Regions from separate parts of the Homo sapiens genome. Here region 2 is linked to region 1. A link means that fine-mapping ties the variant in region 1 to the expression of a gene that starts in the linked region. Tissue or cell type: B cells. Region 1 holds a variant in brackets; the other region holds the start of a gene. All regions are shown on one strand. Distances are from middle to middle.

Region 1 (8,108 bases):
TTCTTAATTCAGTATGAAAAAATTACCAGTGTGAAGAATGTAAAGGAAGGCATCTTTCCTTCCAAACGCAAATAGGCTCATGCCACAGAAATGAAATCCAAAAAGAAAGTAAAGAAAACATATCCCTCCCTTATCCCAAAATTAGTGTTTAACCATGCTGCTTAAATGGAACACATTTTGTCTGAAGGATGAGAAGCAAATGTTGTTTCACAGCTTTTAATTCTTTAGCGAAGTCTCAAAAGTATCATAGTATAAACATGTCAGGACCATGGTTGAGAAAAGTAACCAGTTGCAGTTAAAACAACAACAACAACAACAAAAAATTTTGGAAAAAAAGGAATGGCAAACTCTAGAAGATCTCTCCCAGAGGCTAATAGAGCAATGATCCCTAAGTACTCATTACTATGAAATACAGAGTTCTACAAGATTAAGAAATAAAAAAGACATTAGATTTTTGCCCTAAATGACAGGTAATAAATCTAAACTTAGGAACATTTCCTCACAGTTCAAAAAGTTCTGCCCACCTTGATTAACTTGTTTTCTGAATACCTTTAGTTGCTGGCTTAGTGGAGAAGGCCATTGGTTTGATATGCAAAAAAAAAAAAAAAGATTTTTTTCTGATTGTGCTATTTCATTCATGTGGCTTGGCTTAAAAGAAGATGTTTCACTTTAGTAGGAAGACCAATTCAAACATCATTTACAACTGACGTTTATTCAGTATGAGTCATGAACTGAAACTTGGTGTGGGATCTGGTGGAATTATGGGCTAGCTTAAAGGGTAATGTGGCAAATCATTGGCCTAATTCTGTGGGAATCACCAGTGTCCTCCCAAGGCATATATTCATGAATGAAAGAAGATAAGAACCCAGTCCTTTGCTAAATCTGGCGTCTCTGGCCAAATCTAAACGGCTTAAATAATCCTCATCCAAATATCTTATTTTGGCCAATCGTTTCTACCTTCCTTATAAACTCTAAATCAGAACTTGACACATTGTCAAATCAACCCATTTAACTTTCATTTTTAGTTTTCTTGCCACTTTACTCAGGGAGAGATAAAAACGTGAAATGATTAAAAGACCGAGAAAAAGAAAGGCCAGGAAGAACCCATGGCCTAATCTAAGTAATCCATCAAAAAAGATAATTGGCCCTGTAAATTCAAAAAATATTAATATAATTCAACAGATTTAATAAAAGCACACAAAGGGAGAAAAAGCCTTCTATGGGCAAAGAAGCACAAAATCCTTTGAGGATGTAGTCTATACAAAGCCATAAGAAAATATCATTATCAGCAAACTATTATTTCATAGATTTTCCCAAGCCTGACTCCATGACATGAGTATCATGCATTTTCACTGGAAACTGAAAAAAGTTTTGCCATATATTTAATAACTTTATTGAATGAAGAAAAAGATCACACCAAAAATGGAGGAATACATCAACCCTGGTGGTCTTAGTAGACCGAGCCAAATTAAACTATATGATAAAGCAATTTCTCTTTTTTCATCCACCACTAAATGAGAGTTCATTTTTATCTAAAGAAGGCTCATCTTAGCAAATATTGCCATGACAATAAGACTGTTAGGCAAACCAATAAATTTAGGTTCTGGCCTGGGTTAAGATGACTGTATTTAGTGTCCTTTCTCAAGTTCTACTTGAAGGAATTTCTGTTTAATCAAAAAAAGCTCCCCCAACCACTACCACCCCACCTTGGCACTTAAATGTTTATTTGACTAATATTTATTGCACCTACAATATTGTCAGGGATTGTTTTCAAACTTCAGATATATTAGTAGACAAGTATCCATAAGGCCTAATCTGGAATTCATACAACTAAGAAAAAAAGAAACAAAGTCCCACATTCTCATGTGTTCCTGCTGATGGGCTGTGGATGGGTAAGTTATGGAAAGGCTGGGAGGAGCAACAAGGAAGATAGAGGCCAAGACCAGAGCTTTTTAATCCCCTTCTGAGTCTGGCCAAGGGTATATAGAGAAGGCTAAACCCTAGGGAATAATACAAGTGTGACCCTAAAAGGTATTATTTTGCAACTAAATCAGTCCAATCTAACACAGCCATTTCCTCTAAGTTCACAAAGCAACTTTATTTTCAACACACTTGCAACTGTGAGACAAAGTTGGGTCATCATGTGCTGGGGACACTGGATTTTTGCCCTAAATGACAGGTAATAAATCTAAACTTAGGAACATTTTCTTACAGTTTAAAAAAAATTCTTCTGCCCTCCTTGATTAACTTGTTTTCTGAATACATTTAGTTGCTGGCTTAGTGGAGAGGATGGGGAGGGAAAGGCAACAATTATTATAAATTATTTTGGTTTTTATTAAAATGACTTTTCTTTCCTGCAGAGACAGATTCTAAAAGAAAAACAAGTCAAACTTCTGGGATGCCTTTCTCTTTCCCACAGGATCAGGAAAAACACAGTGAGGCCAACCAAAAGTATCAGCCCCTTAAAAAATATGCATAATCTCATGTGCAAGACACTGGTCAATCTAGAACCTGCTAGAGAAATGCCAGAAATGCTTTATCCACATCATGTCTCTACATGACTAATTTCTTTACAATTAAATAGCTTTCAAACATCAACATATCAGAACTGAGATTGTCACCATCTACAGCAACAGTGGAATTACACATCATATCCTTATTCCATTACTCATCCCTCAGTTATGCTAAGCAGCAAGCTACAGAAACATCTGACAGCATCAACAGCATACAGGTTTAATTATTTTCCCAATTTGCATTTATATCAGTGAACAAATTGGAAGCTATCAAAGTATGGCACTGAAGAAAAAGAAACACATATTCAGCAGCACATCTCCCATTTTGAGTCCTGTTTTTAAATTGGCTAAGTAAAGGCATATACACCTCCATTTGAATTGGAGATTTGCAGTAACACAGGCATATAAGGATGGGAGGGAAGGAGGGAGGGAGGGAGGGAAGAAGAAAAGGAGAGACCAGAAAAATAGAGAGGAAAAGAGAAAGAAAAAAGAAAGAACATATGGTTAAGCGTCTGAAGGTAACATTATTACAAGAAGGAGGGGATAAATGACAGTTCAATCTGCTTCCACGAGCAGAATTTTTCTAAGGTTATCATCGAAGATATAAAAATGGGTCGTGAGACTTTTCATCTGTTGCTATTCTCACTTATCATACTAAAAAATCTACAAAATCCTAAGCCTTGGTCTGTCCAAGATGGAGAGTACCAGGAAGTAAAAGATGTGACCTACTATCAAGGACTGTGCTCTGCTAGGAGCCCTGCACTACAGTCCATTAATCCACAGTATTTTGGTCATATCTGGTCTGTTTCCTCATACTACTCAAAATGTGTTAGAGCTAAGTTTTTATATTAGAATGTCATCAACCATTTGTTTATTTTTTTCATTTTGCAAACGTTTTCATTTACATAAAGGGCTGGAGAGACAAGAAAGTGGTAGAGATTCAGAGGGGAACATAAAAGGAAAAGTATTCTCTTTTCCCAAAAATCCACCTTTAAAAAGGTAGTAATGAGACTTTGAGAAAGAGTGCTGATTCATGGACTTCCCCCATTTTTTTATTTCTATATAACA[C/A]ATTTAAGGACATTAATGTACTAAAACGTTTGGTCTGTGAAATAGCGGAATCATTAGCACCAAAAGGAGTTATGGAGCTTGTATATATTATTAAAACAATGATTGTTACTGTTGGTCATGGGTAAAGGTTTCATTTCATTTTTACATCCCAAAGTTCTTGAAAGTGCCTGTGGACAAGAGAAATAACACTTTTCAAAATCTCCATGGGGTCGTCAATACGCACCACAGAGACTGTACTTGGCCTTCCCAGTTTTGGTTTATCTGGTAGACAAGAAAACCAGGGCCCCCAGATGATTACCACCGAAGCCCTAAAGAAGAGTTCCCACATGCACCCACTGATGTGCAGGAGGGATCCCTACAGTACATTTCCCCCCGGACTCTGTTTAGGAATGCGCTTTTACTTGCTTTTTAAAAAAACAAAAGCAACATGCTCTGCAGATCATGGAGTGCCTAGTGCAATTTTCTCCTTGCTCCAACTCCAGACTGGAAAAGGGTGAAACCATTATATGTTCTGCTAATGCTGGCCTGTGGTCGAGGCCCTTGGCCTGCCATGCTTTGTAAGCTCAGGAGCCCACAGGAGTCAGAAGGTCAGAGAGCGGGAGCCACAGTCATCGCCAGATCTCCCCAGCATCTCATGGCCCATCAGGGCAGTTGCTGATTCCTTTTCTTCTCCGTGCCTCAGCCTTTAGTTGAAATTACAACAAGTCAAATAGCTGATGCTTTTCCCTTCTCCAGGTAAGGGTGAGGATACATTGTTCACAAGTGTGTTCTGTCTGGCTTCACTGATGAGTCGGCATGCTAAGTCAAGGAAGAGTTTCTCCACATTATCAGATTCCTTGGCTGAGGTCTCCAGATAATACATGTCCTGAGCTTCTGAGAATTCTTCAGCTCGCTGCTGGGAAACCTCTCTCCTTTCAGCCAGGTCAATCTTGTTGCCTATAACAGTAGTAAAATCAAATAAAGAATCAGCATTTGACTTTTTGCAGGCTGAGAAGCATCAAAATTCAACTCCATATCTGAAGTCAAGCCAGACAGATGGGCGAGTAAAACAAAACAAATGTGACTGTGATTACTGAAATGTTTACTTTAAAATATGAGTGCCAGCTGGGCGCAGTGGCTCACACCTGTAATCCCAGCACTTTAGGAGGCCAAGGCGGGTGGATCACCAGGTCAGGAGTTCGAGACTAGCCTGGCCAATATGGTGAAACCCCGTCTCTACTAAAAATACAAAAATTAGCCAGGTGTGGTGGCACGCACCTGTAGTCCCAGCTACTTGGGAGGCTGAGGCAGAAGAATCGCTTGAACCCCAGAGGCAGAGGTTGCAGTGAGTCGAGATCATGCCACTGCACTCTAGCTTGGGTGACAGAGTGAGACTCTGTCTCAAAAAAAATAAATAAATAAAAAATGAGTGCCATTCATAATGGCAAGAACTGGAGACAACCCAAATGTCCATCGGTAGGGCACTGACTGAATAAAGTATGGCACATCCACCCAATGGAGTATTTGCTGCCATAAAAATCAATTAGGAGTATTTCTATATACTGCCATGTAATGGAAACACTGGGATATACTGTTAACCAAAAAAAAAGCGAAGCAGAAAAAAAAAGCATATACAATACGCAACTGTCTATCCAAGAAAAAGGGAAGGATATGAATACATATATTATACACACATTTTATTTATTTTTTTAATAGAAGACTAGACCAAAATCTTAATTTAAAAGAAAATGGTTACCTATGAAAGGAACAGGGTTGAGGTGAAAGGAATAGAAACCAGACCTCTCTGAATATACTTTGTTTTGTAGATTTTACTTTAGGAACTTAAAAATGCTTTATATAATTATACAATTAATTTCAAAATTAAATTTAAAAAGCAATCCCTAAAAACTGAGAGCAAAATTAAACAAATGAACATGTTCATCATGTGTGGAATAACCACACAGACCGTAACCCTTTTTTTCTTTTAACTGAGACAAGGTCTGGCTCTATTGCCCAGGCTGGAGGGCAGTGGCGCGATCCTGACTTGCTGCAACTCCACCTCCTGGGCTCAAGCCATCTTCTCCCACCTCAGCCTCCCAAGTAGCTGGGACTACAGGCAGGCACTACCATGCCCAGCTAATTTTTTTTTTTTATTTTTTGCAGAGACAGAGTTTCGCCACGTCCAGGCTGGTCTTGAACTTGTGAGCTTAAGCGATCCACCTGCCTCGGCCTCCAGAAGTGCTGGGATTACACGCAATTGAGCCACCGAGCCGGGCCAACAGAGTAACTATTTCAAGGTGCTTAAGATACAGTAATTTAACAGTGCAACCCCAGTGGTATATAGCCTAAGGACAAAAAGAATTGAAGGAAACAATCTTGAACTGTTTCAGTAATCATCTTTTTGGTGGTACTGTTGGTATTATTATTCTGAGGTTGCTATCTGTGTATTATGGGATAAAGCAAATGAGTAATTATGCTGGTACCATTGGGAACTGGGACTTTTGGCATAGGAAAAAGGAAATATAAATATAAAATTAATGTGGTTAAGTAAAATTTCTGCAGTCCTGAATTATAAATAGAAGTATCAGTATGAATAATTCATGATGTATTTTATCTTTAAAAAGTTTTCCACCTACCTCAAATTCTCCAGGAAACCTGACAAAGGTGTGTCAATTGTATTATCTGGCAACACCGCTTATGGTAAAAATGACCCCTGATTGATAAATGACTTCTGGCCTGGGAATTCTATCTAAGAATTATAAATACCTAATGGAAAGCCATAACTTTGAGCTTCCCTGAATGTGGTGACTTCATTTGAAGAGACCCTGGAAGTTATGATTGTGGAGTTGTTATAATAGATTTAGTCTCCTATGGGGTATTGAGGCTGCTAGGCCAAGGCAGATCCTCCATCTGTTTGACATGAGCCTTGTTCCCTCATACTAGAATCGTCTGGGGGTTGCGGACTGGGTAGGAGGTCCTGGAAAATTACGTGGACTGCTACTGGGATTACTTCCACTGAAGAGGGTTGCCGGATGCTGATCTGCTGTCAAGCTGTATTTCCTGTCCTGTGTCCTTCTAAGTGAACACGATGCCACGCGTGGTCTACGGTAGTCTTGTGAGTCGGAACGCTAGCAGAACCTAATAGGAAAACTCTCTTGAGGATACTACAGAATCCACCACACACATGCACACATACACACAAGCTCTGTCCACTGAAAGGCCTAAAAACAATGGCCCATCAGGAGGGCTCCTAACACCTCGGTTGTGGCCTCTAAATACGACTTCCCATTGAAAAGAAAGCACTTCTTGAAGAAATGGCTAATTCCAGGTCTGGGGCAGGAAATGCACAAGTTGTGGCTGGAACACTTGTCATACCAGAAAGCAAAAAAATTATCCAACATTCCTGGGGTCATGTCAAAAGGACTCAGGAGCCCATTTGAAGAAGCTCCCACTGGCAAAGTCGGAACAATGGGAGCATCAATAATAATAATTGCAAGGGACTGAAATACATCAAATTTACTTATTTAGTTAGTTTTTGAGACAGAGTCTCGCTCTGTTGCCCAGGCTGGAGTGCAGTGGTGCAATCTCGGCTCACTGTATCCTGTGTCTCCCAGGTTCAAGAGATTCTCCTGCCTTGGCCTCCCGCTGGGATTACAGGCATGCTTGGCTAATTTTTTGTATATTTTAGTAGAGATGGGGTTTCACCATGTTGCCCAGGCTGGTCTCAAACTCCCGACCTCAAGTGATCCACCCGCCTCAGCCTCCCAAAGTGTTGGGATTACAGGCATGAGTCACCATGCCCAGCCCATCAAATCTATTTAAATCTATAAATTTATAATAATATTACAAATATAAACAGATGTCAATAGTTAACTTTTAGAAGATACTGGAGAACCAGCTTATTACCTTGAAAAGTGGTGAACAAAAAAGAATCAAGCATTCTTCCTGCCTGTTCTATGAGAACTACCCCTCAGAGTATGATATATGTAGTGTTTTGTCTAAAAAGAAAACCAAAAAAATCCTGACTCTCATCAGGCCTCTAGACTTATCTATAAATCTGCAAGAAATATAGGTGATGGAGGTGATATCAAATGACACCTTGGGGCGATAAAACAAAATTTAGACTTGTAAAGCCTATAGGTCAAACAAATGCATTAGCAAAAAATTCTAAGAGAGAAAAAAAATGAGAGTGGAAACTTCATAAAAAAGGATGAAAAGATGTAGCTGTCAATTACAACATATGGACCTTACTTGGCTTTTTTTTTTTTTTTTTTTAAAGAGTCTGGCTCTGTCACCCAGGCTGAATGCAGTGGTGTGATCATAGCTCCCTGCAGCCTTCAACTTCTGGGCTCAGGTGATCCTCCTGCTTCAGCTTCCTGAGTAGCTGGGACCACAGGTAGATGCCATCATGCCTGGCTAATCTCGCTACATTGCCCAGGCTGGTCAGAACTGCTGGGCTCAAGCAATCCTCCTGCCTCAGCTTCCCAGAACACTGAGATTACAGGTGTGAGCCACCATGCCCGGCTTCTGGACCTTATTTGGATCTTA
Region 2 (8,096 bases), 89 kb after region 1:
CAATGTGTTGATATTTCCTGCTTTTGAATAGGCCCTTAGTGACTTAGGTTAATTCACTCACTCTACCAACATTTAGAGTCCCTAATTTGTGTGAGGCATTCTGTTGGGTGCCTGGAAACACAGTCTGGAGCGCTTTTGCTTGCCTTCATGTCTAGGATCAAAGGTGTGGATGCCTCCCGCACCCATCACCCCTACCCCCTAGCCTAGTATTGCCAAAGTACCTCTTTGTACGTGATTATTTACGTTTGTCTCCCTCACCTGAGTGAATTCCTCCGAAGTAAACAGTATCTTATTCAATGTTGTTTTCCTAGCATGGTGCATGGAAAACTGTTATAACAAATAAGTAAACTGAGTATACTGTTGTTTTCCATGCTGGGGTAAGTATAAACTATTGGAATAAATACATTGTACAGATGAGGAAACTAAAGCTCAGAAAAAAAAATGTGATATGTCCAACATCATACAGCTAATAAATAAGCAGTGTCCAGTGTGAGAAAGCCTCGTCCAGAGCTCTCTTCTACTCCATCATGCCACATCCTACACATGGACAGCAAGAGTGAAAGATCTTAGATGTCTTCCAGGAACCTCAAACTCAGCATGTCCAAAGGTCCTCCCTTCGGAAAACAAAAAGACCTGGTTCCCATTCAGTGTTCTCTTTCTCTGAAAACGTCATCCCCAGTTGCTCAAGAAAAAAACTCAAGTCATTTCATGACTCCCTTTTCTCCCTATCCCCCCATCCAATCAATCAACAAATCTTATCAATTACAATTTTCAAAGTTAGTGTCGGCCGGGCATGGTGGCTCATGCTTGTAATCCCAGAACTTTGGGAGGCAGAGGCAGGTGGATCACCTGAGGTCAGGAGTTCGAGACCAGCCTGGCCAACATGGTGAAACCCCATCTCTACTAAAAATACAAAAGTTGCCAGGTGCGGTGGCTCACGCCTGTAGTCCCAGCACTTTGGGAGGCTGAGGCGGGTGGACCATTTGAGGTCAGGAGTTTGAGAGATCAGCCTGGCCAGCATGGTGAGACCCTATCTCTACTAAATATATAAAAATTAGCTGGGAGTGGTGGGTGCCTGTAATCTCAACTACTTGGGAGGCTGAGGCAGGAGAATCGCTTGAATCCAGAGATGGAGGCTGCAGTGAGCTGTGATCATGCCACTGCACTTCAGCCTGGGCGACAGAGTGAGACTCTGTCTCAAAAAAAAAAAAAAAAATACAAACGTTAGCTGAGCATGGTGGCGGGCACCTGTAATCCCAGACAATAGGGAGGCTGAGGCAGGAGAACTGCTTGAACCTGGGAGGCGGAGGTTGCAATGAGCCGAGATTGCGCCATTGTACTCCAGCAAGGGCAACAAGAGCAAAACTCTGTCTCAAAAAAAAAAAACAAAAAACTTAGTGTCTCTCTAAACCCTCTGTCACCACCCTAGATCTAAGCACCATCATCCCTCATACAGACGACAAAAATTATTTGCTACTTGGTCTCTACACATTCACTCTGACCAAGTCTTTCCTTCAATCTCCTCTACTTAACAGCCAGGATAATATTTTAATATCATCCTACATATGCCATTCATCTAGTTTTTTAAAGCCAGGCTAGGTTCTCATTAGCCTTAGGATAAAGACCAAAATACACCTGTAGCTCAAAGAACTGCCTACTCTCTAGCCTCTGCCCACCTCTCCAGCCTCATTCTTCATTCTAGTCTTTCTCCTCTTGCTCTGTCTCTAACTTCCTTTCAAATCCTCAGGTTCACCACTCTTCCCTTTGAACTTTGAACATGAAGTTCCCTCTGCCAGAAACCTTTGTCCCACTATAAGCATCTCCCACTGCCATCCTGAATTACTACTTCCGTTTACCCTCCAAGTCTCTTGAAGTGTCACTTCCTATAGGAAACCTTTCCTGATAACCCTAGACAAGGGGAAAGTACCATGTCAGGCACTCCTACCCAACCCTTTTGGAAATGGCATTCATCACACTTGCAATTATTTATTAAGTATATCCCCTATTAGAATATAAGCTCCATGAAGTCAGGGAAAGCATTTGTTTTCACTGATGTATCCACAGTGCTTAGTACATGGTAGCTGCTCAATCAATATAAATTGTCAGAATTATAGGTTGGGGCCAGATTATAGAGGGCTATAACATCAGTAAACCAAAGAGCAAGGATCATTATCCCTTTGCAAATAAGTAAACCGAAGCAGAAAGAAATGAATAGTTATTTAAGGTCCCAGAGACAGCAGTGATGAGGCCAAATCTAACACTACATTCAGCCCATTTCTCCTCCCTAGGACAATAAAAGAAACTTTGGTGGGTAAGGAAGTATTTCAGAAGAAGAAAATTAGGAATGAGAAGATGGTGCATAAAAGGTCTAAGAGGACAGCTTCTGAATCTGCCTGTTACACTAGTTGCCTCCAGATGGATAGCAGTTAGACTTTCCACACCTAGAGGAGCACTGCTGTTACATAAACAAATATAGCCACTATCACACTCTTCCCGTTAAGAGAAGAGAATAAAATAACAAACTTCTTTCCTGCACAGAGGAGAAGAAACAACCAGGGTGGGTGGGGAACTGTTGTCCTCCAAGTATCTTCAAAAAACCAAATGGGCAGTTTGGCCACCTGGATTGCTACTCAGCAATCCACAGGGAACAGGAAGAAAGAGGGGGGAAAGATCAGCCTTCCCACCACCAGCTGCAGCAAGGATAAGGAAAAAAAAAATGTATTGTATAAGGCAAGCCACTTGAAGACTACTTATTCCTTGGGAATTATGAGAACATTTCATGTAGAGCATTTAAAAACCTTGCTAATCCATAGGCAGGTGCCAGTGAAAGGAAAAGTGGCATGAGCCCAACTGCAGCATTTCATTGTTCACATGCTGCTGGGGCTAAATTATGTCTGTCACAGGAACTACAAACCAGACCAGGGGTCAGGCTCATTGCTGCTCATCCTGCCAAGCACAGACTGCAAGAAAAAGAAAAGGCAAAGAAATTCTCTTCAAAGAGGATTCTGCAAAAATATTCACATAGTCTACATCCACCCAGGAGTTCCTAGTTGAAGTGGAGGACCAGGGAGTGTGTTCTAAGATTGAAGAGAAAGAGATGTGATATGCTGGTGATAAAGGAGGGGTTTTGAAACAGAAAGGAAAAATGTAAACTGCAAATGGAGAGATAGAGAAATAAACAGAATTTCAAGAGATGTGGGTGGGATGGGGTGGGGTGGGGGGAAGAAATGAAAGTACAGGAGAGAAGGGTAGGGTGTCCAGAAGAGCAGAGCGTCATCAACAGAGAGACGCAGAGGCAAAGGCTAACTGTTGATCTTTTCCCAAATCCAAAAGCTGCTCATTGGCATCCCAATAAATCACTCTACTACAAAGCCCATACAATGGACTGTCCTTTGCATTCAGCATCAAGCAGCATTTAATGAAATATCACACAGCTACAACTTTGGAGACCTAAGGATCTGAATTTAAAATGAACAAAATTGGCTTAGCAGCAGAAGACAGCCAGTAAAGAATTTCGCCCATGTCTGACTCAGCTAGGAAAAGGTTTAGCATTCTAGAGTTAAGCAAATACTCTGGCATTTCTCCTTCTTTTGACATTCCAAGAGGGGGTGTGGTTGACCCCAGGCCCATTCATTTCCAAGGGTGTAGATCTCTCAGCCAAGACTGGCCCCATCTGTTGTGGAGCCAGCCAGCTGTTTATCTCAAAGTAACATATCTATTGCCCTAATTATCCCTATAACTCTTACAAGAGCATCATGTAAGTCAGAATGCTTTCTCTCCTGTTAAATGTCAGTTCGTTTAAAAAAACAACAATAACAAAACAACCAAAATCACTCTTCCATGGGCACCTTTCAGTAATGGCAAATGAAGGTTAACAGCGCTTCTAACTTTCCCTTTCTCTAATGTGTTAAAATGAACCCCTCTTCCCTAATCGATCTCTTCAAACCGTTATTTGTGAGTAGTGACTATGCCTCAGGAAACAGCAGCTCATTATGGTACCATTGTCAGTGGCAAAGAGCCTATGCAATGTAATTTAAAACACACAAGCACAAATCTGTCGGCTCCACTTCCAAACAATCTTGAATCCAGCAGTCGGAGAACGGAAAACATTTAACAAAAACGCTGCTTCCAGCAGCCTGAAAGAACCTTCGCCAGACACGTGAAATGTTTCTGACTGGCACGGAGTGCACCATTAAAGGACACTGTCACCTCAAATCAGCAGAAAAGGCGAGACAAACCACATAGACATACACACATAAAATAAAGCCCTACAAAACTTAAGCACGTTCATCTTAAAAATTAATAACTAGTGCTCGTCCAAGCGACATTCAAATGTTCTAAAGTAGTGCGACCACATTAATTCACTGTCTCCATTTCTCCCCACGCATCACCCCTTCCCACTCAAACCTCAGCTCTCGGGCCGTGTGTGACAGGACTGCAGTCCCCCACCTCTGCCTTCCTCAGATTTTCCAAGAGCACTCCCCAACATCCTTCCCAGCCCAGCCCCCTCTCTCCGCCTCAAAAAGGTTGAGAGGAGTTGCGACTAGGGAATTGGCAGGCACCCGTCCTCTGGCGGGGGAAGGTTGCTGGAGTTGTTCTTTGCAGTGACCCAAATGGCACAGAGCTTTTCCCCTTAGCTGTGCCTGCAAGCCTCTCCCCAATCCCCCCCACCTCCCCACCGCTCACAGCTTCCCAAAAGAAAGCCTTGAGAACTAAGCGGGAGGAATAACTTGGTAGAAGCATTTGAATAAATCACTTCAACTCACCTGGTTTGGGATTTTTCTCCCCACCCCAGGCATAAACAGAAATGGATGTGCGAATGAGTCACGCACGCAAGGGAAGGTCTGCGATGTCCTGAGTCCAAGGGCTGGAGTCAGTCCCTGCCCTGGTGCTGCTGCTACACTTAGCTCAGCTGGAGCGAGCGGCAATCGCAAGCCCAGCAGCAGCAGGGGGTGGAGAGACCGTAGCACAATGAATGCAGTGGGGCTTTTGCAATGACATCATCCCTCTGTCCAAACGTCCCCAATAGCCATGCTCGGGAGCGGTGCTTTCTGGGAACTGTAGTCTTCTTACGTCCTGAAGGGATACCCAGGCAATCCCCGAAACTACAATGCCCAAAATGCTCCAAGTGGGACGCGCCCAGAGTGAAGGAGCAAAGGGGACTCGGCCGCCATGTTAGGAGTACTGGGACGATTCCGCGGAGCCGGGCAGAGGTTTTAGGGGTGCGCAGGAGTCAAGTGGTGGTTCAGTGGGGACGGTGAGGTGGAGGACGATCTGGTCGGATAGCCGCGGGCACGAACCTGGGAACCAGAGGGTGGAGGCCATGCTGGGGACTGATGTAGGGCGGGACCGACTGGAAGCGGCATCCAGAGGCCCAGTGAGCCTCGGTCTCAGCTCCTGAAGGGGTTGCATGGGGCCCTACGCTTCCTTCTCCATTTTTTAGCTAAGAGATTGAGAGAGTCGGTTTACTTTTGGGCTTGGAGTATCATTTAGATCTGTTAACAGTACAGTTGAGAGAGTTGGTGTCTTTTGTTGAGGTGCGAGGACCCGAGGCGGCGACCCTCGCCTTTATTCGGAGAAGCCCACTTCCACCCACAGAGTTGGGGTAGTCCTCCGAAATGCATTTTTGTTTTGCCGTTTGTTTTCCAACCCCCTTTCACTCTCCCCAAAGCTTCAGATTCACTGATTTTTCATACAGGAATGATTAACAAAGGCGTCCGAAGAAATCGTTGTTGGAAGGTGACCAAGGTGGAAAGAGACGTTGCTTTGGCCCTGCAAGTAAGAAGAGAGAGGGAATAGCCTGAAGGAGTAACACTAAATTTAAAATGACACTTTTTTACCAACCAGCGAAAGCAGATGTTCAAAGGGGATATTGGCCAGGTGCGGTCGCTCACGCCTTTAATCCCAGCACTTTGGGGGCAGACGCGGGGAGATAGCGTGATTCTAGGAGTTCAACCCCAGCCTGGGCAACATGCGGAGACCCCGTACCGTCTCTACAAAAACATTAAACAAAAAAATTAGCTGGGCATGGTGGTGTACCCCTGTAGTTGCAGCTACACTAGAGGCTGAGGTGGGAGGATCGCTTGAGCCCGGGATGTTGAGGCTGCAGTGAGCCTCGATCCTACCACTGTGCTCCAGCCTGGGCGACAGCAAGCCCGTGTCTCAGAAAAGGCGGGAGGGGTGGGATATTATTGATGATAGGCCTTCTGACGTCTGGCAATAGATTCCAGAGTAACATCGGTCATGGATAAATTTTTTTTTTAACTAAGTGACTGAAACCAAAGTTAATTGTCTTTTGAGTGATTTTGCACAGTATCTCAAAATGAACTGTACTTTTTTTCTTGTGTCACTGAAACAGTGCTGTGTGTTCTTTTTCAGAGTCTGTCACACTAAGATGAGAAATGTCCTTTCTTCCTGAAGGTGTCTGATGTGTAAAAATATGATATACTTTGTGCTGTTTCCTCCCTTCCCTTTTGCATATTATTCTGAAACAACATTAACTAGTTACTTTGCGTCATTGAAGGTATGCACTTCCCCTCTATGTTAGGAGTGAATAAAATTAAAAATAGATCCTTATAACAAAGAAAGGCAGATAGAATGATTAAAAATGACCAAAACATGTTAGAAACAGTCTCTCAGGTGTATGCAGATGGTAATTACAAAAATACTTTTTCAAAAAATGATCTTCTGTGTCATGTTTCTGGGAACAAGTCAAGATGAATGAGTTTGATTTTTAAGCAGAAGTAGTATGTGTTGGTGTCATCCATGAATACAACAATGAAAAAGGCTCAAAGTTGTTGTTATTCAGAAACTTCTCTAAGTAATGGTGGTAAGTACAGGAAAAGGAGCAATGTCTACCATTTTCTTTCTAACCTTCGATTTAACTATTGTAATGTTGTAAGCTTAACAGAGACTTACACTTAGGCTTAATTTCAAGCTCTTCAATCATTTTTCCCGGTTGGTGATTCAGGTGTATTCTCATGTCTTATGTAAACTTATCATGAGTGTTGTTGATTTATAATATATTTCTTTATGTAAGCCATAGCCTTGTCAGTTTGAGTTATATGGAAGACAAATTGTAGGGAAAAAGAGCAACAGATTACTCAGAAACCTTCTGTGTGAGCTGGGCATAGTAGTGCATGCCAGTAGGCTTAGCTACTTGGGAGGCTGAGGCAGGAGGATCACTTGATCCCATTAGTTTGAGGCTGCAGTGAGCTATGATTGTGTCACTGTACTCCAATCTGGACAACAGTGAGACTATGTCTGTTTTTAAAAAAGAAAGAAAGCTTGTGTTTGAGAAGTGATACCTCTAGAATACAGTGATTTCTATAATTTGTCATGTGTTTGGGTAGTTTGAAGTTTTTCTATCCTTGTATCTAATGGACATCTGACCATAAAGATGAAAAAATCCTGCACTCATTATAAATTTTATTTATAAAATTGATATTTGAGGAGTTGGGGAGGCCAGCTTCTGAAAAAATAACAGTGTCCCATAGAAACACCACAACTTAGGAAAATATTGTTAAAGTGGAATTAGGAATATCTAGAGGAGGTAAAGCTTTTCATCTCTCAAAAAAGAATTAGGGCCAGGCACAGTGGCTGACACCTGTAATCCTAGCACTTTGGGAGGCCGAGATGGGCACATCACTTGGGGCCAGGAGTTCAAGACCAGCCTGGCCAACATGGCGAAACCCCATCTCCAAGAAATAGAAAAGTTAGCCAGGTGTGGTGGCGTGCGCCTGTAATACCAGCTACTAGGGTGGCTGAGGCAGGAGAATCGCTTGAACTGGGGAGGTGGAGGTGGCAGTGAGCAGAGATTGAGCCACTGTACTCCAGCCTGGGCAACAGCAAGACCCTATCTCAAAAAAATAATAAAGAGAATTAGGACATGGATTTGTATTAAAATTATAGGTAGCTCATTTAAGAGTATGAAGCCAATTGCTGTTAGAGCAAGGGTTTTTTTCAGTAGAGGTGTCAGGATAACCTATACAGCTCTAAAAGTATATGGCTGTTACCTTCCCATCCCTGTTGAAATCTCCAGGGTTAGAACCAAGTATTGTGTTTTTAAAACTATAGGTGAGTCTACAAGAGTTGGG

What was found. PIP is the estimated chance that this variant, and not a neighbour inherited with it, causes the effect.
Region 2: it holds the start of RAB30, and the variant in region 1 is fine-mapped to the expression of RAB30 in B cells (Fairfax 2012, PIP 0.95). The same link has a PIP of 0.9 or more in whole blood.

Annotation. Positions count from the first base shown.
Region 1 is chr11:82,977,899-82,986,006 of GRCh38, forward strand. It overlaps RAB30 (RAB30, member RAS oncogene family), which reads right to left. Exons shown (of 5, transcript NM_001286060.2): 5 at 1-4,517. The coding sequence ends at 4,267. Among named protein-coding and RNA genes, the nearest start is that of SNORA70E, 60 kb to the right of the region's middle. The variant C/A (reference allele first, on the strand shown) is at 3,582.
Region 2 is chr11:83,066,925-83,075,020 of GRCh38, forward strand. It overlaps RAB30 (RAB30, member RAS oncogene family), which reads right to left and starts at 4,973. Exons shown (of 5, transcript NM_001286060.2): 1 at 4,767-4,973. It overlaps RAB30-DT (RAB30 divergent transcript), which reads left to right and starts at 5,142. Exons shown (of 3, transcript NR_038903.1): 1 at 5,142-5,222; 2 at 5,699-5,880; 3 at 6,379-6,788. LINC02951 (long intergenic non-protein coding RNA 2951) reads right to left here. Exons shown (of 3, transcript NR_186233.1): 3 at 5,478-5,772. RefSeq lists enhancers at 2,863-2,912, 2,933-3,162, 4,926-5,415.